Linked DNA regions of Homo sapiens: region 1 is linked to region 2. The links come from fine-mapping of genetic effects on gene expression. Tissue or cell type: blood mononuclear cells. Region 2 holds a variant in brackets; the other region holds the start of a gene. All regions are shown on one strand. Distances are from middle to middle.

The links.
Region 1: TMEM45B starts here. The variant in region 2 is fine-mapped to the expression of TMEM45B in blood mononuclear cells (TOPMed, PIP above 0.99).

Annotation. Positions count from the first base shown.
Region 1 is chr11:129,808,892-129,820,830 of GRCh38, forward strand. It overlaps TMEM45B (transmembrane protein 45B), which reads left to right and starts at 6,957. Exons shown (of 6, transcript NM_138788.5): 1 at 6,957-7,007. LOC124902793 (a long non-coding RNA gene) reads right to left here and starts at 5,796. Exons shown (of 2, transcript XR_007062952.1): 1 at 5,077-5,796.
Region 2 is chr11:129,840,790-129,852,728 of GRCh38, forward strand. TMEM45B (transmembrane protein 45B) reads left to right here. Exons shown (of 6, transcript NM_138788.5): 2 at 11,686-11,871. The coding sequence starts at 11,694. Among named protein-coding and RNA genes, the nearest start is that of TMEM45B, 31 kb to the left of the region's middle. The variant A/G (reference allele first, on the strand shown) is at 6,898.

The DNA of each region.
Region 1 (11,939 bases), 32 kb before region 2:
CAATCCCATCAAAAAGTGGACTAAGGACATGAACAGACAATTCTCAAAAGAAGATATACAAATGTCCAACAAACACATTAAAAAATGCTCACCACCACTAATGATTAGGGAAACGCAAATCAAAACCACAATGAGATACCACCTCACTCCTGCAAGAATGGCCATAATCAAAAAAACAGTAGACGTTGGTGTGGATGCAGTGAACCAGTAACACTTCCACACTGCTGGTGGGAATGTATACTAGTACAACCACTATGGAAAACAGTGTGGAAATTCCTTAAAGAACTAAAAGAATTATCATTTGATCTCGCAATCCCAGTACTAGGTATCTACCCAGAGGAAAAGAAGTCATTATTTGAAAAAGATACTTGCACATGCATGTTTATAGCAGCACAATTTACAATTGCAAAATTGTGGAACCAACTCAAATGCTATCAACGAGTGGATTAAAAAAACTGTGGTGTGTGTATATATATATATATATATATATACACACACACACACACACATATACACGTATACATATATATACATATATACGTGTATATATACATATGTGTGTGTGTGTATATATATATATGTGTGTGAGTATATGTGTGTGTGTGTGTGTGTGTGTGTGATGGAATACTACACAGCCACGAAAACGAATGAATTAACAGCATTTGCAGTGACCTGGATGAGACTGGAGATTATAATTCTAAGTGAAGTAACTCAGGAATGGAAAACCAAACATCTTATGTTCTCACTGATATGTGGGAGTTAGCTATGAGGATGCGAAGGCACAGAATGATACCATGGACTTTGGGGGTTTGGGGAGAAAAATAGGAGGCAGTCAAGGGATAAAAGACTACAAATATGGTGCCTTGTATACTGCTCAGGTGATGAGTGCACCAAAATCTCACAAATCACCACTAAATAACTTACTCATGTAACCAAATACCACCAGCACCCCAATAACTTATAAAAAAAATTTTTTTAAAGATAATACAGCAATAGTCAAGTGGGTTTCATACCAGGAATGCAGGGATATACAAGTCAATAAATGTAATATATCCAGTAAACAGAATTAAAAACAAAACTCATATTATCCCAATCAACGCAGAAAAAGCATTTGACAAAATTCAGCATTGCTATATGATTAAAACCCTCAGAAAAATTGGCATGGAAGGGACATACCTCAAGGTAATAAAAGCTATCTGTGACCAACCGACAGCCAACATTATACTGAACAGGGAAAAGTTGAAAGCATTCCCCCTGAGAACTGGAACAAGCCAAGGATGCTCACTTTCACCACTTCTATTCAACATAGTACTGGAAGTCCTAGCCAGAGCAATCAGACATGAGAAAGAAATAAAGGGCATCCAAATCAGTAAAGAGGAAGTCAAACTATTGCAGTTCACTGATGATAAGATTGTATACCTAGAAAACTCTGAAGATTCATCCAAAAGGCTCCTAGATTGGATAAATGAATTCAGTAAAGTTTCAGGATACAAAAATCAATGTTCACAGGTCAGTAACACCACTAAATACCAACAGTGACCAAGATGAGACACAAATCAAGAACTCGATCCCTTTTACAACAGCTGCTATATGTATTATATATATTATATATTATAATGTTTTATTTTATAATATATAATATGTTATTTCAGCATTGCTTTATGATTAAAACCCTCAGAAAAATTGGCATGGAAGGGACATACCTCAAGGTAATAAAAACTATCTATGACACACACACATATATATATATATAAAACCAAGCAGGTGAAAGACCTCTACAAGGAAAACTACAAAACACTGCTGAAAGAAATCACTGATGACACAAACAAATGGAAACACATCCCATGCTCATGGGTAGATTCAATATTGTGAAAGCTGTCAAAAGCAATCTACACATTCAGTGCAACTCCTATCAAAGTACCATCATCATTCTTCACAGAACTAGAAAAAAAAATCTAAAATTCATATGGAACCAAAAAGGACCCCTCATAACCAAAGCAAGACTAAGCAAAAAAAAAAAAAAAAAAAAAAAAAAAAACATCTGGAGGCATCGCATTAACTGACTTCAAACTATCCTACAAGATTTATACCAGTACCAAAACAGCATGGTACCAATATAAAAATAGGCACATAGACCAATGGAACAGAATACAGAACCCAGAAATAAAGCCAAATACTTACAACCAACTCATCTTCAACAAAGAAAGCAAAAACACAAATAGGGAAGGGGCACCCTATTCAACAAATGGTGCTGGGATAACTGTCTAGCCACATACAGAAGAATGAAACTGGATCCTCATCTCTTACCTTATACAGACATCAACTCAAGATGGATCAAACACTTAAATGTAAGACCTGAAACCATAAAAACTTTAGAAAATAACGCTGGAAAAACTCTTCTAGACATTGGCTTAGGCAAAGATTTTAAGACCAAAAACCCCAAAGCAAATCTAACAAAAACAAAAATAAATAGATATTACCTAATGAAAACACTTCGGCACAGCAAAATAATCAGCAGTGTAAACAGACACCTCACTGAATGGGAGAAAATATTCAACTATGCGTCCTACAAAGGACTAATATGCAGAATCTACAAGGAACTCAAATCAGTAAGAAAAAAAGAAATAATCCCATCAAAAAGTGGGCAAAGAACATGAATAGACAGTTCTCAAAAGAAGATACACAAATGACTAACACATGAAAAAGAATGCTCAACATCACTAATTATCAGGGAAATGCAGATTAAAACCACAATGAAATACCACCTTACTTCTGCAAGACTGGCCATAATTTACAAAGTCAAAAAATAGTAGATGTTTGCATAGATGTGATGAAAAGGGCACTTTTACACTGATGGTGGGAATATAAACTAGTACATCCACTGTGGAAAACTTTATGGAGATTCCTTAAAGAACTAAAAGTAAAACTACCATTTGATCCAGCAGTCCCACTATTGAGTATATATCCAGAAGAAAAGAAGTCATTATATGAAAAAGCCACTTGCATCTGCATGTTTATAGGAGCAAAATACACAATTGCAAAAATATGGAACCAGCCTAAATGCCCCTCGACTGACAAGTGGATAAAGAAAATGTGATATATTTACACCATGGAATACTACTCAGCCATAAAAAGGACTGAAGTAATGGCATTTGCAGCAATTTGTACGGGAGTTGGAGACCACTATTCCAAGTGAAGTAACTCAGGAATGGGAAACCAAATATCGTGTATGTTCTCACTTATAAGGGTTTGCTGAACTATGAGGATGCAAAGGCATAAGAATGATATAATGGGCCGGGTGCAGTGGCTCACAACTGTAATCCCAGCACTTTGGGAGGCCAAGGCAGGCGGATCATGAAGTCAGGAGATTGAGACCATCCTGGCTAACATGGTGAAACCCTGTCTCTACTAAAAATACAAAAAATTAGTCGTCGTGGCACGCGCCTGTAGTCCCAGCTACTCAGAGGTCTGAGGCAGGAGAATCGCTTGAACTTGGGAGGCAGAGGTTGCAGTGAGCTGAGATTGCGCCACTGCACTCTAGCCAGGGCGACAGAGCAAGACTGTCTCAAAAAAAAAAAAAAAATACATACATACATACATATATATATATATATATATATATATATATATATATAATGGACTTTGGGGACTCAAGGGAAAGTGGGAGGAGGGTGAGGGATAAAAGACTATACATTGGGTACAGTGTACACTGCTCAGGTGATGAGTACACAAAAATCTCAGAAATCACCACTAAATAACTTATCCATGTAACAAAAAAATGACCTGTTCCCCAAAAACTATTGCAATTTTTAAAAATGTAAACATTAGCCATGCGTGTTGATGCACACCTGTAGTCCCAGCTACTTAGGAAGCTGTGGCAAGAGTATCTCTTGAGCGTTGGAGGTCGAGGCTACAGTGAGCTATGATTGCACCACTGAACTTCATCCTGGGCAACAAAGTGAGCCCGTCTCAAACACACACACACACACACAACAAAAAATTGGTTTTGTCCTGGTACCTGGTTATTATAATTTGAAGCAGAAATTATTTTGTTTAGATTTTTTAATATTAAGAAGCATCTCCGTCGGGCGAGGTGGCTCACACCTCTAATCCCAGCACTTTAGGAGGCTGAGGTGGGCAGATCACCTGAGGTCGGGAGTTCAAGAACAGTCTGACAAACATGGAGAAACCCCGACTCTACTAAAAACACAAAATTAGCTGGGCATGGCGGCGCATGCCTGTGATCCCAGCTACTCAGGAGAGTGAGACACGAGAGTCACTTGAACCCAGGAGGCCAAGGTTGTGGTGAGCCGAGATCGCGCCATTGCACTCCAGCCTGGGCAACAAGAGCAAAACTGTCTCAAAAATAAAAAGTAAAAAAAAAAAAAGCATCTCTACTCACCATTAACTATACAATTAAGAGGTCACACCTTTGTTTCATCATCGTAGACAAGGTAAATATTACTAAAGAAAATGCCTGTCCATAAAAGGGATCTGGTGACAGAGGACAGCCTCTCCCAGAGTAACAGGCATCCAGGACTCCACTCTATCAACGATTTCTAAAACAATGGGTGTGAGCAAGGGCTAGGATGAGATGTGTGATTAAGTTCCTGAGCTGACGGCAAATTTAAAAGATGCCCTCTCAGCTCCTGGCTGCGGCCCATCCTCCCTGTAAGGTGCACGACTCCATGACGCTTTTCACTGACGGCACTACCTCTTGGCCATTACCACCTCCCACCAGATCCCATTCGCTCTGTTTTACCAGGGAAAGGTCTGCTCCAGTTAATGCCTTATCCTTCACAGTGATGTTCTTTGACTTTATAAAAACGGAGCCATTTGGTCAACAGGCTGCCCGTCGGATCCCGTGTCCTTCTGCACTGCTAATATCTAGCTGTGGCCCTGCTTTAAAACCCAAATGCAAACATCTCTTCCATGAAGCCCTTCCTGATTGCCAGTGCCCTCAACAGTGGAATAAGCTGCCAGGCATCTTAGAGATCTAGACCCGTGGTTCTCAACCCCCACTTCCCCAGGCCTCCTGAGAAGCTTTTAATAGGTGCATCAGCCCTGGATTCTTACCGGCAGGACTGAGAGGGAGCCTTAACGCTTGTGTTCTTCTAATAGTGTGCACAGGGTTGACGGGAAACACACACACACACAGTGCAGAACCATTCCACGAAGCTGTGTATCCGGAATTGGTTCCCTCTGAAGAGTTCCTGGTCCCGGTCCTGCCGCGGACCTTCACGGCATTATAGTTCTTAAACATGGTGTGTCCGGAGTTTGTTCCTTCAAATGTTCAGGTGTGTCCGAAGTTTTTTCTTTCTAGAGAGTTCGTGGTCTATGCACGACTTGATGAGTGAGGCCGCGGACCTTCGCAGGGAGTGTTACAGCTCTTAAAGGTGGCGCATCCGCGTTGTTCCTTCCTCCCAGCGGGTTCGTAGTTTCGCCGACCTCAGGAGTGAAGCCACAGACCTTCGCAGGGAGTGTTACACCTCTTAAAAGTGGTGCGTCTGGAGTTGTTTGCTCCTCCCTGTGGGTTCGTGGTGTCGCTGACTTCAGGAGTGAAGCCACAGACCTTCACAGTGAGTGTTATGGCTCTTAAAGGTGGCGGCTCCAGAGTTGTTTCTTGTGGTGGCTTCCTGGTCTCGCTGGTTTACAGGAGTGAACCTGCAGACCTTCACTGTGAGTGTTAAAGCTCATAAAGGTAGTGTGGACCTAAAAGGTGAGCAACAGCAAAATTTATTGCAAAGAGCGAAACAACAAAACCCCAACACCATCGAAGGGGACCCAAACGCAGCTGCCGCTGGCTCGGATGGCCAGCTTTTATTCCCTCATTGGCCCCGCCCACATCCTCCTGATTGGTCCTGCCCACATCCTCCTGATTGGTCCATTTTACAGAGCGCTGATTGGTCCATTTTACAGAGTGCTGATTGGTCCATTTTACAGAGTGCTGATTGGTCCGTTTTTACAGAGTGCTGATTGATGTGTTTACAAACCTTTAGCTAGACATAGAGCATTGATTGGTGCATTTACAATCCTTTGGCTAGAGAGAAAAGTTCTCCAAGTCCCCACCAATTAGCTGGACACAGAGCACTGATTGGTGCATTTTTACAGAGTGCTGATTGGTGTGTTTACAAACCTTTAGCTAGACACAGAGTGCAGATTGATGCTTTTACAATCCTTTAGCTAGACAGAAAAGTTCTCCAAGTCCCCATCCGACCCAGAAGCCCAGCGGGTTTCACCTCTCAGTAGCTTACAGAAGAGGACCCTGCTGCCACAGCACAATACCACAAAGAAAGTCATGCTCTCCTCAGCAGGTAGCCCCCTTCTCCGGGACAGGAACTTTGTTTCCTTCTTAGCTCTATCGCCAGCACCTAGAACAGTGCCCACCTGTCAGATCTGTTATCAGATGGGAACATGGCAGATTTGTTGAATGAATGAAGGAATGAATGAACTATGTGACACTCAAACTTAGCCACCAAACTTAAACTAAAAAAACTGGGTTGTGGTCCCTGATGGACCGTTGGCACCTTCTTCCTTTGCTGGACGGTGATCCGTGGCTGTTTCTGCGGTGTGTTCGCAGTGGTTGCCTGGCTTGGTAACAAACACTCTTCGGAGCCACAGCCTGTTCTCAGGGTCCTCGCCGCCTCCCAGGCCCTGCGATCTCTTTGCATCTCAGGAGGTCCAGGTTGGTTGCAGTCCTCTTGGGTGACTCAGGAACCAGCCTCTCCTGAAGCACACAGCTTAGGGAGTTCCTGAGGCCAGAGACATCTCCACGGGAAAGTCAAAGGCCTGGAGGAAGTGCGGACCTGACGACAGATGCCCCGCACGCTGGCCGGGACCGGGAAGGGCGGTCAAGGGTGGAAAGGGGCTGGCGGCTGCCAGGCCTGGCGGAGTGGAGCGGGGCGGGGCGCAGCGGGGCGGGGCGGGCCTGGAGCTGCACCTGCTTCTGGGCGGACGCACTTGGCGCGCGGCGCGGGCTGCAGACGGCTGCGAGGCGCTGGGCACAGGTCAGACGTCCGTACCCGCAGGGGGCTCGAACCTGGAGGAGGGCTCGAAGGGAGAGGGGGCCCCGCCAAGGAGCGGGGCTGTGATGGAGAGGAGGTTCCGACTCGCAGGGGACCTGCGGGGGAGGGGACGCGGACAGGGAGGGGCTCTGGGACAGGGGTGAAGGCTGCGCTAGGGGAGGACGGGAGGGGATGGAGGGCCCTGGTGTCGCGGAAGCCCAGCTGGGGCCCCCTCCGGGCTGCGGAACCGGTGCGCACACTACTCCCACCGCCCCCGAGTGCCTCTGTCCGGCTGGCCGCGGCCCTGGAACGAATATTGCTCAGTCCCCCGCGAGTCAGGTCTGCCGCGTTGCCCGGTGAGGGGAAGGTGTGAAGCCCCGGGCCTCCGTCTGCCCGGTGAGTCCGGGGACGCGCGCCCCCGGGGATGCCATCTGGCTCCTGGGCTGTGACCAGTCACAGCTCACATAGCTCTGGGCACTGGTACCGACTGCCTTTCCTTGTTAGCTGCGATACACAAATACACGAGCCAGATCCTTTCCTGAGGCCAGGAAGCCTGGAATCTAATAACACCGGGCGGTGGATAAAGTCCCCCGAGCCAGTGCTTAGCTTCCGTTAATGGAGCCATGGATGGAAGCGGATGTCAGGCGCAGTGGGGGAGAAATTTGCGGGGGTGGCCCTGTCTAGGGCCAGAGAAACAACCTCTGAAGCTTTGATCCAGCCCTAGAGGGAAGAAAGATGTGAGTTTCAGCCAGGGAAACGTAGCACTTTAAGAAATAGAAACCCTTTCAAAATTTGAGGGCAGGTAGCTCTCCTAAAAGTTGCAGAAATGGCCACTTCTTTTTTTTTTTTTTTTTTTTTTTGAGACGGAGTCTCGCTCTGTCGCCCAGGCTGGAGTGCAGTGGCGCAATCTCGGATCACTGCAAGCTCCACCTCCCGGGTTCACACCATTCTCCTGCCTCAGCCTCCCGAGTAGCTAGGACTACTGGCGCCCGCCACCACGCCCGGCTAATTTTTTGTATTTTTTTTTTTTTTGGTAGAGACGGGGTTTCACCGTGTTAGCCAGGATGGTCTCGATCTCCTGACCTCATGATCCACCCGCCTCAGCCTCCCAAAGTGCTGGGATTACAGGCGTGAACCACCGCGCCCAGCTAGAAATGGCCACTTCTTTCACGTTCTCTTCGACCGCTTTCTGCGGTGTCTGCCCTTTTCCTCCTCCTGCACCTTTTTGTCTCCTAGGGTCGCATAGCCTTCCAAACAGGCCTGCCTACAGCATTTTACCTGCAATTTTACACTCATTTTAATAGAAAGGATGGCTTATTGTTCATGAGAGACGTGTACTGTTTTTAACCAGATGTGTAATATCTTCAGTATAACCTGGATGTTGTGCAGTGGGAAGTTATGGAAAGAATCAGGACACGTGGTTAGGTAGGGGCCCAGGGGCGTCAGACTTAGCTCTTTGTGACAGTGAGCTTCTTGGTTTAATAAGGATATTGGCTCCCTCTGTTCCTGGGGTTTCTGGGAAAAGATATGGAACTGATATGAAGGTTTTATTGAATATGGCCCACTGATTTTACAAGTGGAGGTGACTGAGATAAGCAGAAGGTGAGGCATGACCTCTGGCTGTGCATTATTTGTTCTGATATTACAGGAGCCAAGCATTCCATTTCCTTCTTTTTAAAGAGCTTTGATTTCCTCTCACATCTTCATGAAGATGGAAACAGTGCCCCCACTTACTTATCCTCAGGCCACACCTGTTCCCATTTATTCCATGAGTTCCTCCCACACCCTTCTGGTTGATGTTGGTTGTGATGGTCGAGGTAATTGAATCTCACATTTGGCACCAGTTATTTCTGTTTCTCATCTCCCCCCTACCTGCAGTTAAACATCAGCTGCTATACTTAACTGTTCAAAGTACAGATGTTACCTGTGTTGGGTGTAATCAAAAGATTATCTCTTTTCCTCAAATGAAAAATGGGTGAGGACAGTTTCACCACACATAGAGTCACTCCCCTAGCCAAAGTCCTTGCTATTGCAAAACTTTTTACTGTAAGAGAATTAAAGTCACTAGTGTGTCATCAACTAATGGTACTTATAGACACATTCCATATTTGTTTCTATAGAAAGATCATAAGACAAACACTAGATTATTCCCAGTATGAGACCATACTGAATATGAACAATTAGAGGCCACAGGTGAGTGCTGTCCTCCTCACACTTTCTTTGAACTCTTAAGCTTCTACTCTTTTAACCAGCTACCCCTCTCCCCAAAACCTTCACTGAGGCTAGAAACAAACACAAATAGACTATTTGAATTTTAGCAAATTTTATCTCTCTTTTCTATTCTCTTGTGTAAAACTTAAATGGCCACAAGCTACACTACTGGAGGAAAAAGGAAAGCTAAAAGGTCTATCAGCCTTCTGTATGTGATGCAGAGTTCAACTGAATATAGCAAGGTACACACCCGCATTCTCCTTGCCAGGACTTAGATATCATAAGCCATTATCTTGCTGGTTGTTGAAATCATAATGGGGCTTTATAGAGCACAAGGCGATGTTTGTAAACAGCACTGTTCAGGTCAGATTAGAATCCGTATTTCAAAAATGAGGAGATGGAAACAGAGATATTGTGTATGTGGTCCAGGGTTAGCCAGTAATTAAATGGCAGAGCCAGAACTCAAACCAACATTCCTTCCAGAATACCACAGCTGCCTCTGGAGTGGTTTTTGTTGTTCTTGTTGAATTTTGTGATGGAAGATTGTGATTTGTTTTTCCCGAACACTTAATATGTTTTCTGACTTGAATTATCAGAATCTAAATTTAGAAACTCTCTCGTTTGGTATATTTCATGCCCATCTTTGTTCCATATAATTACAAAAATATCTTAGAGCTGAGTATAACCTTAAAGATTGTCAAGTCCAATCTTGTGGTTTTTCAAGGAAGAAAACCGGATTTAAGAAAAATAAAGCAAGTACCTCATGTTGCTTCCCCAAATCTACTTCATTGGAGAATTACAGCTAAAAACAATGTTCAGATTTTTGCTCCTTCTGTCATGTGGTCCCTTGAGAATTTGCCAAATGTATAAATCCAGTGACTTATTTTGATGTACTCTTTTGGTTTGAGGTCTGTGACAGCAAACATAACCTCCTTGAATCCCAGCCTCAAATGCCTATGGACCTTCTGTTCTAACTGTTATTATAACTGTAGCCGTTATTATAGTGGCTAAAGTTCTAACTTCTGTTCTAACTGTGCTCCTGGTTCCATGACAAAGAGAGCTTTACTTGTCTTATTCCTAGCACAGTGCCCATAGCAGGCATACATAAAATGTGGTATGTCAGATAAACATCTGAAAAAGTGTGAGATGTCATTAGACGTTCATTCAGCTACAAGAACAGAAAACCCTACTACAGCGGCTTAAACAAGTAAGGAGTTTGTTTTTCTCAGAGAACGAGAAGTCTGGAGGTGAGAAGGCTGGGGCTGGGAAAGGGGTTCCGATATGAACGTCATCTGAGACAGGCTCCTTGTGTCTTCCCGCACCACCCTCCTTAGCATGGAGCTTTCATACTCACTTCCGCAAGTTGCAGCAGAAAGACGGGCAGAGGCATGCTCCAGAAGAGTCTTGTCTTGTCTTTTCTTTTCTTTTCTTTTCTCTCTTCTTTTCTTTTCTCTCTCTCTCTCTCTGTCTCATCTCTTTCTTTCTTTTGACTCAGAGTCTCTCTCAGTGGCACAATCTCGGCTCACTGCAACCTCCGCTTCCTGGGTTCAAGTGATTCTCCTGCCTCAGCCTCCAAGTAGCTGGGATTACAGACGTGCACCACCACGCCCAGCTAATTTTTGTATTTTTAGTAGAGACGGGGTTTCACCATGTTGGTCAGGCTGGTCTTGAACTCCTGACCCTGTGATCTGCCCCCCTCGGCCTCCCAAAGTGCTGGGATTACAGATGTGAGCCACCACGCCTGGCCTGTCCTTCTTTATAATAAATAATAATAATAACAGCTTTTCTGGTAGCCCACCCCAAAAGACTTCTTACATGTCATTGGCCAGAACCATATCACATACACACTGTTAACGGTGACGGAACCAGAGAGAATCTAGTGTTTGAGACAGACACGTTGCCAATACATCAAAATAAGAATTTTGGGCCAGACACAGTGGCTCACGCCTGTAATTCCAGCATTTTGGGAGGTCAAGGCGGGTGGATCACCTGAGGTCAGGAGTTCAAGACCAGCCTGGCCAACATGGTGAAACCCCATCTCTACTAAAAACACAAAAAATCAGCCGGGCGTGCTAGCAGGCGCCTATAGTCCCAGCTACTCAGGAGGCTGAGGCAGGAGAATCGCTTGAACCCAGGAGGCAGAGGTTGCAGTGAGCCGAGATCATGCCACTTGCACTCCAGCCTGGACAACAAGAGCGAAACTCCATCTCAAAAAAATAATAATAACAACAAAATAGGAATTTTGTTAATAAGGCGGGGGGAGAATGAACATTGGGTAGGCAGCTAGCAGCATCTGCCATAGTGTGTTTTATGAGTCATAGATCCTGTCTCTAAATAGGTTGTTATTTGTTTTGGTTTTTTGTTTGTTTTACTAAAAAGCAATGGGTAATGCAGTGGGTCCAGGGGAACTTTTTTAAATGGTAGAGTGCAAGGACCACTCTGAGAACTGCTGATTATGTAGGTCTGGGCTGGGTCTATAATTCTCCATTATGGACGGGCACGCCAGGTCATCTGAGGGCAGGTGGTTGCGGGAATACATTTTGAGAAACACCGAATGTCAGGTAGTTTAGCAAAAGCGACTTTATTTTATTTCTGTTAGCTTTTTGCCTCACTCCTCTTGAGGGTATACTTTATTTTTTAATTATCTGCTTTGGTCAACATAAATCAATGTATAGTCTTAGAAGTCGTTCATTGTAGAAGGTTTTCATTGAGTTTATACTGAGT
Region 2 (11,939 bases):
CAGGAGAATCGCTTGGAGGCAGAGGTTGCAGTGAGCCAAGATTGCACCATTGCACTCCAGCCTGGGCAACAAGAGCGAAACTCCATCTCAAAAAATAATAACGAGGAGAAGGCCTTCCAGTTATGGCAGCACAAAGAGGCAGGCAATTTCTTTCTGTAAAAAAAAAAAAAAAAAAAAAAAAGCAACAAACAACCAAAAAATATATAAAACTAGACAAAATTGTTTATCAAAACCAAGCATTTCAGGGAACTGGAAATTGACAAAATGCAGGCAAAAAATTGAGCAGCATTTATTCTTGAAAAACTACTAGATCTTCAGGCAAGTAGGAGATGGTGGCTTTTTTTGCCTGTGGCTGCTCCCATCACCCCCCAGCTCAGCCAATGACTTTTAAGTAAGATGGGGCTGGCCATGAAAACTGCCACACAAACAGATTCAATTCAGAGCAGTGGCTGGGGGGTTGAAAATCCTTGGCTTTGCTGGCTTAACATGGGAATGAACACTTGGAAATGAGCAGGACAAATCCACAGCTTCGCTAGCTTGAGGTTGCAGCCCCACTTGGGGCAAGCAGCAGGCCAACCAGGAATTTAACAGGGGGATTCTGGAAATGAGAATCAGAGAAGTATTGAAGTGAGCTCTTCACGCATCCCTGGCTGACTGAAAAAACTATGCATATATGGAGAAGACCTGAGAGAGCCCAGCAAGGGAGATAAGGGACTTGAAAACTGGCCTTCTCCAACCCCCACACAGAGGGACTGACAGGGGTTGGAAGTGTAATGGGCTTGAAGTTTTCTTTTGTTTTTTTGTTTTTTTTTTTTTTTTGGAGACAAGAGTCTCACTCTGTCGCCCGCCCAGGCTGGAGTGCAGTGACGTGATCTCAGCTCACTGCAACTTCTACCTCCTGGGTTCAAGTGATTCTCCTGCCTCAGCCTCCCAAGTTGCTGAGATTACAGGCACCCACTACCACGCCCGGCTAATTTTTTGTATTTTTAGTAGAGATGGGGTTTCGCCATGTTTGCCAGGCTAGTCTTGAACTCCTGACCTCAAGTGATCCACCCGCCTCGGCCTCCCAAAGTGCTGGGATTACAGGCATGAGCCACTGCGCCCGGCCTCAGAGAATTAAAGAAAACTGTTCAAGGAATTAAAAGAAAATATGATTTAAATGACTCGACAAATAGGGAATCTAAATAGAGAAATACAAACTGTAAAAAGAATTAAATGGAAATTCTGGAGTTGGAAGGTACAATTTCGAATTCACTAGATGGGCTCAATAGCAGATTTTGAGATAGTGGAAGAACTAGTGAACATGAAAATAGACCAATAGAAATGATCCAATTCGAAAAACAGAAAGAAAAATGAAGACAAATGAACAGACCTTCAGACACACATGGGATGATGCTCAATGTCCCCACATACGTGTAATGGAAGCCGCAGAAAGGGAGAGAGAAAAAAATAAAGAAGTAATAGCTGAAAGCTTCCCAGGTTTGATGAAAGATATTGAATTGCAGATTTTTTTTAAAACTCAACCAACACTGAATTTAAAAAACACAAAGAGAACCACACAGGAAGGACAAAGCCAGAAGCATCACACTTCCTGTGTTCAAATTATATTATAAAGCTATAGCAATCAAAACAATATAGTACTGGCATAAAAACACACATAGAGCAATGGAACAGAATTGAAAGCACAGAAATAAACCCACTCATATAAGGTTAACTAATCTTCTACAAGGTGTCAAGAACAAGAATGAGGAAAGAATAGTATCTTCAATAAATGGTGCTGGAAAAACTGGATATCCACATGCAAAAAAAAATAAGGAAATTGGATCTTTATCTTCCACCATATACAAAAATCAACTAAAGGTGGATGAAAGATTTAAATGTAAGACCTAAAATGGTAAAACTCCTAGAAGAAAATATGCAGGGAAAGATACATGACATTGGTGCTAGCGTTGATTTCTTTTTTGATATGACAACAAAAGCACAGGCAACAAAAGCAAAAGTAAAGGAGTAGGATTGCATCAAAGTAAAAAGCTTTTGCATAGCAAAGAAAACCATGAAGAGAGTAAAGATACCCATAGAATGGGAGAAAATATTTGCAAACCATATATGCAATAAGGAGCTAAATCCAAAATATACAAGAAACTCTTACTACTCAATAGTAAAAAACAAATAACCCTATTAAAAAGTAGGCAACAGGCTGAGTGCAGTGGTGCAATCTCGGCTCACTGTAACCTCCGCCTCTCAGGTTCAAGCGATTCTTCTGCCTCAGCCTCCCGAGTGGCTGGAACTACAGGCATGCGCCACCACGGCTGGCTAATTTTTTGTATTTTTGGTAGAGATGGAGTTTTGCCATGTTGGCCAGGCTGGTCTTGAATTCCTCACCTCAGGTGATCCGCCTGCCTCAGTCAGCCTCCCAAAGTGCTGGGATTACAGGCATGAGCCACTGTGCCCAGCCTATTTTAGACTTTTTGATTGCCCTATGATCTCAGTTCTCAAATGAGTTTAGGAAAAGTTATGATTTTGTAGTTTATCTGCTATCGTTGCTGTTAGGGTGTAATACTCATCCCAGCTTTCCGCATCCTGGATTCTTTGTGTTTTAATAATTGTTTACTATAATCTATTTCATATGTTCTAATGTATACAATGCCAATTGATGTTTGCTTTTATGTATTTGCAGTTTTGATTTCTTCTTTGACCCAAAGTTATTTAGTGACTTAAAAAATGTTTAAGGTGATTGAGATTTTTGTAAAAGAAAATATTTCTGTTGTTATAGCATTGTAGTCAAAGAATGTAGGCAATAAATTTTCTGCTTTGAGAAAAAAAAAAAAAAGTGGGCAAAGGACCTGCATAGACATTTCTCTAAAGAAGACATACAATGGCCAAGTGGTTTATGAAAAGATGCTCAACATCACTAATCGTCAGGGAAATGTAAATCAAAGTCACAATAAGATATTACCTTATACCTGTTGGGATGGCTGTTGCCAAAAAATCAAAACAAAAAACAAAACAAGATTGGTGTGGATGTGGATAAAGGGAACCTTTACATACTGTTGGTGGGAATGTGAATTGGTACATCTATTATGGAAAACAGTGTGGAGGTTTCTCAAAAAATTAAAAATAGAGCTACCCTATGATCCAGCAATTTCACTTCTGTGTATATATCGAAAGCAAATAAACTCCCTATCTTGAAAAGATATCTGCCCTCCCATGGTCACTGCAGCTTTGTTTGCAATAGCCAAGATATGGAAACAATCTAAGTGTTCACTGATTGATGAATGGACAAAAAAAATGTGGTGTATATATATATAGAATGGGATATTATTCAGCCTTAAAAAAGAAGGAAATCCTGCTATTTGCAACAACATGGATGAACCTTGAAGACCTTATACTAAGGGAAATAAGCCAGACACAGAAAAAATGCTGTGTGATCTCACTTATATGTGGAATCTAAAATAATCAAACTGGATATAAACAGAATAGAATACCTGTTACCAGGGTTCTGGAGCAGTGGGGGAAATGGGGAGATATTGGTCAAAGGGTACAAACTTGCAGTTATGAGTAAATTTTGGAGACCTAATGTACAGGAGGGTGACTATCATTAATAATAATATACTGGCCAGGCACAGTGGCTTATGTCTGTAATCGCAGCACCTTGGGAGTTTGAGGCGAGAGAATAGCCTGAACCCAAACATTCAAGACCAGCCTGGGCAACATAGCGAGACGTTGTCTCTACAAAAAATTTTTTAAATTGGCCAGGCGTGGTGGCCTGCACCTGTAGTCCTAACTACTTATGAGGCTGAGGCGGAGGATCACTTGAGCCCAAGAAGTTCAGGGCTGCAGTGAACTATGATTATGCCACTGCACTCCACCCTCGGTGATAGGGCGAGACCCTGTCTCTAAAAATAATAGTAATAATAATAAACCTTATATTTGACATTTGCTAAGAGAGTAGATCTTAAGGATTCTCATTACAAAGGAAAGGAAAGGGTACCAGGTAAGGTGATAACTCTGTTAATTAGCTTGATCATACCAATCATTTCACAATGTATACATATATCAAATCATCATGTTATATACCCTGAGTATATACAATTTTTATTTGTCAATTATACCGCAATAAAGCTGAAAAAATATTAAAGGACATCCTTCAGGTCGAAAGAAAATGAGGTTTTAGAGTTATTAAAATGGACAGAAAGAAATGAAGAACGCTGGAAATGGTAAATATGTGATTAAATATCAAAGAATATATATATATTCATGCTTTGAAAAATGTAAAATTGCTTCAAGAAATAATTGCCACACCATTAGTTTATAACCTAGACTTTATATATTCTTAAATCTTAAAAACTTTATAACAAGCCCAAACATAAATATGATATGTACATATATGTGTACACACACACGCACACGTCTCTGCCTGTTTATTAGAGTGGCTTATTTAGTCCATTCATATATATTAATGGCTTATTTTGTGTGTGTGTATGTGTGTGTGTGTGTGTGTGTGTGTGTATGCATGAAGGAAGGGGTAGGAAATAGAGCTATTATAGATGTGTGTGTGTGTGTGTGTGTGTGTGTGTGTATGCATGAAGGAAGGGGTAGGAAATAGAGCTATTATATATTGGAACAAAGTCACTATATTTTATCAGAATTAAGTTACTATTAAAATAGACCATGGTAACTTCAAGATGCATACTATAATCCCTAGACTAGAGCATGCAGTAGGAAAAAAATATATATAGCTTAAAATATGAAAAAAGTAATTAAAATGGTATACTAAAATTACTTGTTAGACATAAATGACAGCAGGAAATGAGGCACGGAGGAACAAAAAAATGCATGAGTGACAGAAAACAAATAGCAAAATGACAACTATAAATATAACCACACCAATAATTACATTAATATGAATGGACTAAATAAACCGTCCCAATAAAAAGGCAGAGATTGTCAACTATGCAAATTCTCAAGGAATTTCCCTTTTATGCATAGTTTTGGGAATGCTAGACTTATATTAATGGAAATAAGCCAAGAAAGAAAAATAAATGGCATCCAAGAAACAGGGGATCCAAAACAAGGAAAAGCCTCTTCTGGAAGCTGCAGCAAAAGGTAGGGTGGGTGGAAAACAAGAAAAAGGCAAAGGGAATTTGTAAGATGGTGCAGAATGCCCCAGGAGGACAGACAGCCAGTTCAATTTTAAAGAGAATATTCTCAAAACAGGTCTCTAGGAATAAAACAGAAATAAGTTATCTGAGGTTAAAATGTCTAGAATTTAATTTGGTCAACATTTGACAGATCTTTTAGCCCTTTGGAGGAAAAACATAGTGATCAGTATTTGGGAAGATAAACAAGTAAAAAAACAATGCAATTATTAACCCCAGAATAAAACAAAAGTGTTAGGCCAGGTGCGGTGGCTCACGCCTGTAATCCCAGCATGTTGGGAGGTCAAGGCAGGTGGATCACCTGAGGTCAAGAATTCAAGACCAGCCTGGTCAACATGGTGAAACCCTGTCTCTACTAAAAATACAAAAATTAGCCAGGCGTGGTGGCACCATCCTTCATTCCAGCTACTCAGGAGGCTGAGGCAGGAGAATCGCTTGAACACATAGGTGGAAGTTGCAGTGAGCAGAGATCATGCCACTGCACTCCAGCCTGGGCGACAGAGCAAGACTCTTTCTCAAAAAAAAAAAAAAGTGTTAGAGAAAACATAACCCATAATACACTACTTGGATCTGCATTCATTCATTCCACAAGTATTTACTGAGTGCTCACTCTGTGTCTGGCCCTGCGGTAAGCTGTGGACTAACCACAATAAGCAAATAGATCAAATCTCTGCTTTCCAGAGGCCCACATTTTAGTGGATGATGACAGATGCTTAAAAAAAAATCAGTCTGCAATATCAGATGGTGATTCATACTTTACAGAAAAGTTACAAGTCTACATAGATTGAAAAGTGGGGCAGGCCTCTATTGTACATGCAGGAGTCACGGAATAAAGTGGCATTTGAACAGAGACCTGAGTAAAGTGAAGGAGACAACTGTTGGCTGCCTGTGGGAACACTGTTCTAGAAGCCACAGACAGTGCAATGTCCTGAAGCAGGAATGGAGTGTTCTCAGCCATTTAAGGGAATGGAAGGGATCCAGTGTGGCAGGGGATGAGTGCTGGGAGAAATCAAAGAGATGGCTCAGGATCGTATATGGCCTTATTGGCCCTGGTAAGGACTTTGGATTTACAGAGCCATGATAATGAAACTAATGATTTCAACAAACGAGTATAATGCAACTGCTATGAAAATAGCAGGGTGGGGAAGAGGGAGAGGCTGTGAGAGAGCTCCAGGAAGTTGGTAGGTGATGCCTGACAATGATGGATTAACAAATGACCACATGCACAAAGCATTAGGTTGGTGCAAAAGTAATTGTGGTTTTTGCCATTACGTTTGCACCCACCCATTAACTACAATGGTGGAGGTAAATACCGGAGGAAACAGCTGAAAGGGTTGAAAGTGGCTTTGCTGGGGGTGAGGAGGGACAGAACATGAGGCTGTTGCTTTTCACTATAAGTCTTTCATACGAGTTGATTTTCTGAAAACTGTAAGCATTTTTTTAAAAGCTTATGAAGTTATTTTTTTTTATTTTTTTTTATTGATCATTCTTGGGTGTTTCTCGCAGAGGGGGATTTGGCAGGGTCACAGGACAATAGTGGAGGGAAGGTCAGCAGATAAACAAGTGAACAAAGGTCTCTGGTTTTCCTAGGCAGAGTGTGTGTGTCCCTGGGTACTTGAGATTAGGGAGTGGTGATGACTCTTAACGAGCATGCTGCCTTCAAGCATCTGTTTAACAAAGCACATCTTGCACCGCCCTTAATCCATTTAACCCTGAGTGGACACAGCACATGTTTCAG[A/G]GAGCACAGGGTTGGGGGTAAGGTCATAGATCAACAGGATCCCAAGGCACAATTTTTCTTAGTACAGAACAAAATGAAAAGTCTCCCATGTCTACTTCTTTCTACACAGACACAGCAACCATCCGATTTCTCAATCTTTTCCCCACCTTTCCCCCTTTTCTATTCCACAAAACCGCCATTGTCATCATGGCCCGTTCTCAATGAGCTGTTGGGTACACCTCCCAGATGGGGTGGTGGTGGCCGGGCAGAGGGGCTCCTCACTTCCCAGTAGGGGCGGCCGGGCAGAGACGCTCCTCACTTCCTAGATGGGATGGCGGCCGGGCAGAGACGCTCCTCACTTTCCAGACTGGGCAGCCAGGCAGAGGGGCTCCTCACATCCCAGACGATGGGCGGCCAGGCAGAGACACTCCTCACTTCCCAGACGGGGTGGCGGCCGGGCAGAGGCTGCAATCTCGGCACTTTGGGAGGCCAAGGCAGGCAGCTGGGAGGTGGAGGTTGTAGCCGAGATCACGCCACTGCACTCCGGCCTGGGCACCATTGAGCACTGAGTGAACGAGACTCCGTCTGCAATCCCGGCACCTCGGGAGGCCGAGGCTGGCGGATCACTCGCGGTTAGGAGCTGGAGACCAGCCCGGCCAACACAGCGAAACCCCGTCTCCACCAAAAAAATACGAAAACCCGTCAGGCGTGGCGGCGCGGGCCTGCAATCCCAGGCACTCGGCAGGCTGAGGCAGGAGAATCAGGCAGGGAGGTTGCAGTGAGCCGAGATGGCAGCAGCACAGTCCAGCTTCGGCTCGGCATGAAAGGGAGACCGTGGAAAGAGAGGGAGAGGGAGAGGGAGAGGGCTTATGAAGTTCTTGATGATGGGTGGGACCCTCATCTGTCAATGTGTAAGATGTGAAACAGCCCTGACAATGTAGCTGGTGCTAGAGGGACGGGCCTGTGTCCAGGGTTGGAATATGCTGTGCAGACCAGGAATGCTTTACATTCCGGGGTGGTCTTTTCTAGATCACTGTCTCAGTCTGCTTGTGCTGCTACAACAAAATACCACAGACTGGGTAACTTATAAAGAACAAATTTATTTCTCACAGTTCTGAAGGTTTGGAGGTCCAATATCAAGGCACTGGTATGTGGTGTCTGTTGAAGGCTGTAGCCTCACATGGCAGAAAGGGCAAAAAAGGGAAGCAACTCCCTCCATTCAGCCCTTTATAAGGGTGCTTAATCCCATCCACAAGGGAGGAACCTTCATGGCTTAATCAGCTCTTAAAGGCCCCACATCTAATACTATCACACCGGCAACACCTGAATTTTGGAGGGGACCCATTCACACCATAGCATTCCAATCCTGGCCCCCCAGAATTCACGTACTTCTCACAAACAAAATACATTCATTCCACCACAATTGCCCTCAAAAGCCTTAAATCATTCCAACATGAACTTTAAAATCTAAGTCCAGAATCTTATCTAAGTCAGGTGTGAGAGAGACTCATTCACTTTGAGATAAATTTCATCCTGAGGCAAATTTCTCTCCAGCTGTGAGCCTGTGAATTCAAATGAGTTGCGTACTTTGATTCAAATACAATGGCGTGACAGGCACAGGACAGATGTTTCTAGTCCAAAAGGGAGAAACAGGAAGGAAGAAAGGAGTAACAACAGGTCTCAAGTGAGTCCAAAACTCAACATTAGATCTTAGGCTTGAGAATAATATTATCTGACTCCATATCTCACCTTCTGAACACACTGGGGTGGGTGTTGGGCCCCCAAGGCTCCAGGTGATACCACCTCCAAGGCTTCCCTAAGTATTGGCCTACTGGGGGCTCTCTGCAGTGGCTCCACCCCGGTGACAAATCTCTGCTCGGGCCCTGAGGTCAAAGAAATCCTTTCCATCGAGGTGGAGGCGGCCGTGCTCCCACAGCTCATACAGTATGCATACCTACAGAGTCAGCACCACATGGATGCCACCAAGATTTATAACTTGCGCCCTCTGGAGCAGTGGCCCAACCTGCACCTGGTCCTGCTTGAGCCACAGCTAGGGTGACGGAGGAATGCTCTGCTGGAAATGTGGGGAGCAGAGACCTGAGGTGGCCCTAGGCAGTGATCTCTGAGACCCCGCAGGCGCCTGGGCCCTTCCCCTGAAACTGTTCTGCCGCAAGGCTCTAACCCTCTGGGCCTCTAATGAGCAAGGCAGCCCCAAATGCCTTTGGGGTCATTCTCCGAAATGGCTTTGGAGTCATTTTCCGAAATGACTTTGGGGTCATTTTCCCGTTCTCTTGATAACTAGCACCTGGCTTCCTTCTACACATACTAACCTGCTTATCAGTCCTGTGGCCATACCCGTGGTTTTCTCTCCTACACACACGTTTTTCTCTTTTTCATGGCTAGGCTGAGAATTTTTCAGATATTGACCTTTAGCTTTCCTTTTGATGGTAAATTCTGCCTTCAAATTATTTCTCTTTTCTCACGTTTTTTTTTTTGTTGATGTTGTTGTTGTTTTTGAGATGGAGTTTTGCTTTTGTCACCCAGGCTGGAGTGCAATGGCGCGATCTCGGCTCACTGCAACCTCCCTCTCCCGGGTTCAAGCGATTCTCCTGCCTCAGTCTCCCGAGTAGCTGGGACTACAGGCTCCTGCCACCGCGCCCGGCTAATTTTTTTATGTTTAGTAGAGACAGGGTTTCACCATGTTTGTCAGGCTTATCTCGAACTCCTGACCTCAGGTGATCTGCCTGCCTCGCCCTCCCAAAGTGCTGGGATTACAGGCGTGAGCCACCGCACCTGGCCTCTCATGTTTTTCTATAAGCAGTTAAGAGAAGCCACACAGCATCCTGAACACTTTGCTTTCTATCTCTTCTGCCAAATATCCTAGGTCATCATTCTTAAGTTCTGCCCTCCATGAAGTCCTAGGAAACGACATAATTCAGGTAAGTTCTTTACCACTTTCTAACAAGGATAACCTTTCTTCTAGTTTCCAATACCTTGTTCTTTATTTCTGTCTGAGACCTCATCAGAATTGCCTTCACCATCGGTATCTCTATCAACATTCTGTTCATGACCACTTAGGCAATCTCTAAGAACGAGGCTTTCCCCACAGCTCATATCCCACATCTACAGCTCTCCTCTTCTTCTGAGCCCTCACCAGAATCATCCTTAGTGCTCCGTTCATGGCAATCCAGGCTTTTTTCAGCACTCACTTCAAAGCTGTTCCAGCTTGTATTCATTATCCAGTTCCAAAGCCACCCCCACATTTTTACATATTTGTTATAACCCCTGGTTATAAATGTTATAAACTCCTCTGGTACCAATTTCTGTCTTAGTCCCTGTTGTGCTGATATCACACAATACGCAGACTGGGTAATTTATAAAGAACAACAATTTATTTCTCACTGTTCTGAAAGCTGGGAAGTCCAAGATCAAGGCAGCAGCATCTGGTGTCTGCTGAGGGCTGCATCCTCACATGCAGGAGGACAAACAGGGGACCAGCTCCCTCCAGCCAACCCCTGTATGAGGGAGGGCATCTGCTCCTAGTTCAGGAGGGAGGGGCCCTCATGGCCTAGTCCCTTCTTAAAAGTCCTCTTCTCGGCCGGGTGTGGTGGCTCACACCTGTAATCCCAGCACTTTGGGAGGCCGAGGTGGGCAGATCACCTAAGGTCAGGAGTTCGAGAAAAGCCTGGCCAACATGGTGAAACCCCGTCTCTACTAAAAATATAAAAATTAGCCAGGCGTGGTGGCGGGTGCCTGTAATTCCAGCTACTCGGGAGGCTGAGGCAGGAGAATCGCTTGAACCTGGGAGGCAGAGGTTGTAGTGAGCCAAGATCGTGCCACTGCACTCCAGCCTGGGTGACAGAGTGAAACTCTGCCTCAAAAAAAAAAAAAAAGTCCCCTTCTCTTAATGCTATCACCTTGGCAACACCTGGATTTTGGAGGGGACACATTCAAACCACAGCAATCACCAACAACTGGTATTTTTCTCCCACCCTACATATTCTTTAGGTAACCACCCAGGCCAGTGGGGAAAATAATCAATCTACTTCTGAATAAATCCTAGCTATAGTTTCATGCTACTGCAAATGGGATAACAGCAAATCATGCCTGAAAATTTTTGGAATAAGGTGATGTTTACATCGTTATGCTGATTTTTACAAACTGTGAATCATATTGACCAGGTTCATTTGTACTAGACCACCACACCAAAACTTTATAAAATTATTTTCCAGTTGGGTGAAAAATGATGTTGTGCTTTCGTTTGCCCATCTCTAATTTCCGGGAGATTTATAATTTGTTTGTATTATTTTGTGAATCATCCGTTCATGTCTTCTGCCTATTCTTCTACGGTCTTTTTCTTATCAATTTGTAAAGACTCTAATGTAATAGCCAACTGCTACAAGCATGTTTCTGATTTGTTGTTTACCTTTTGATGTTCTTGATATTAAAAGATGCTTATATAGCTGAACGTTTTTCTTTTCTAGTTCCCCCCTTTATGTTTATGGCTTGGAAGTTTTCTCTATCTGAGATCAATAAATATTACCTATCCTCCTCTTTCCCCACCCTCATCCTTTTATTTTACCCACATGTTTAAAGCATTACAGACAGTGGAGTCCAGTTGGTTATGCAACTCACTTTACAGATGAGACTTCAGTGACGTAACATAAGGCTTGTTTTATGAGAATGTGTTGATCCTTCTTAACGTGGCTTATGATTTGCAATCTCAGGCACGTATTGTGTTTCCTGCCAAAATATACATTTGTTTGCTTGCTTCATTAGCCACCTAACAGCCTTCCCCTAATTTTTTAGGTGTCCTGATGGCAAATTTCAAGGGCCACGCGCTTCCAGGGAGTTTCTTCCTGATCATTGGGCTGTGTTGGTCAGTGAAGTACCCGCTGAAGTACTTTAGCCACACGCGGAAGAACAGCCCACTACATTACTATCAGCGTCTCGAGATCGTCGAAGCCGCAATTAGGACTTTGTTTTCCGTCACTGGTAAGAGCAGGGGTCATTTGGTCTAGGGAATCTCCTCATCATACCCAGAACCTTTAATTCATTTTCTG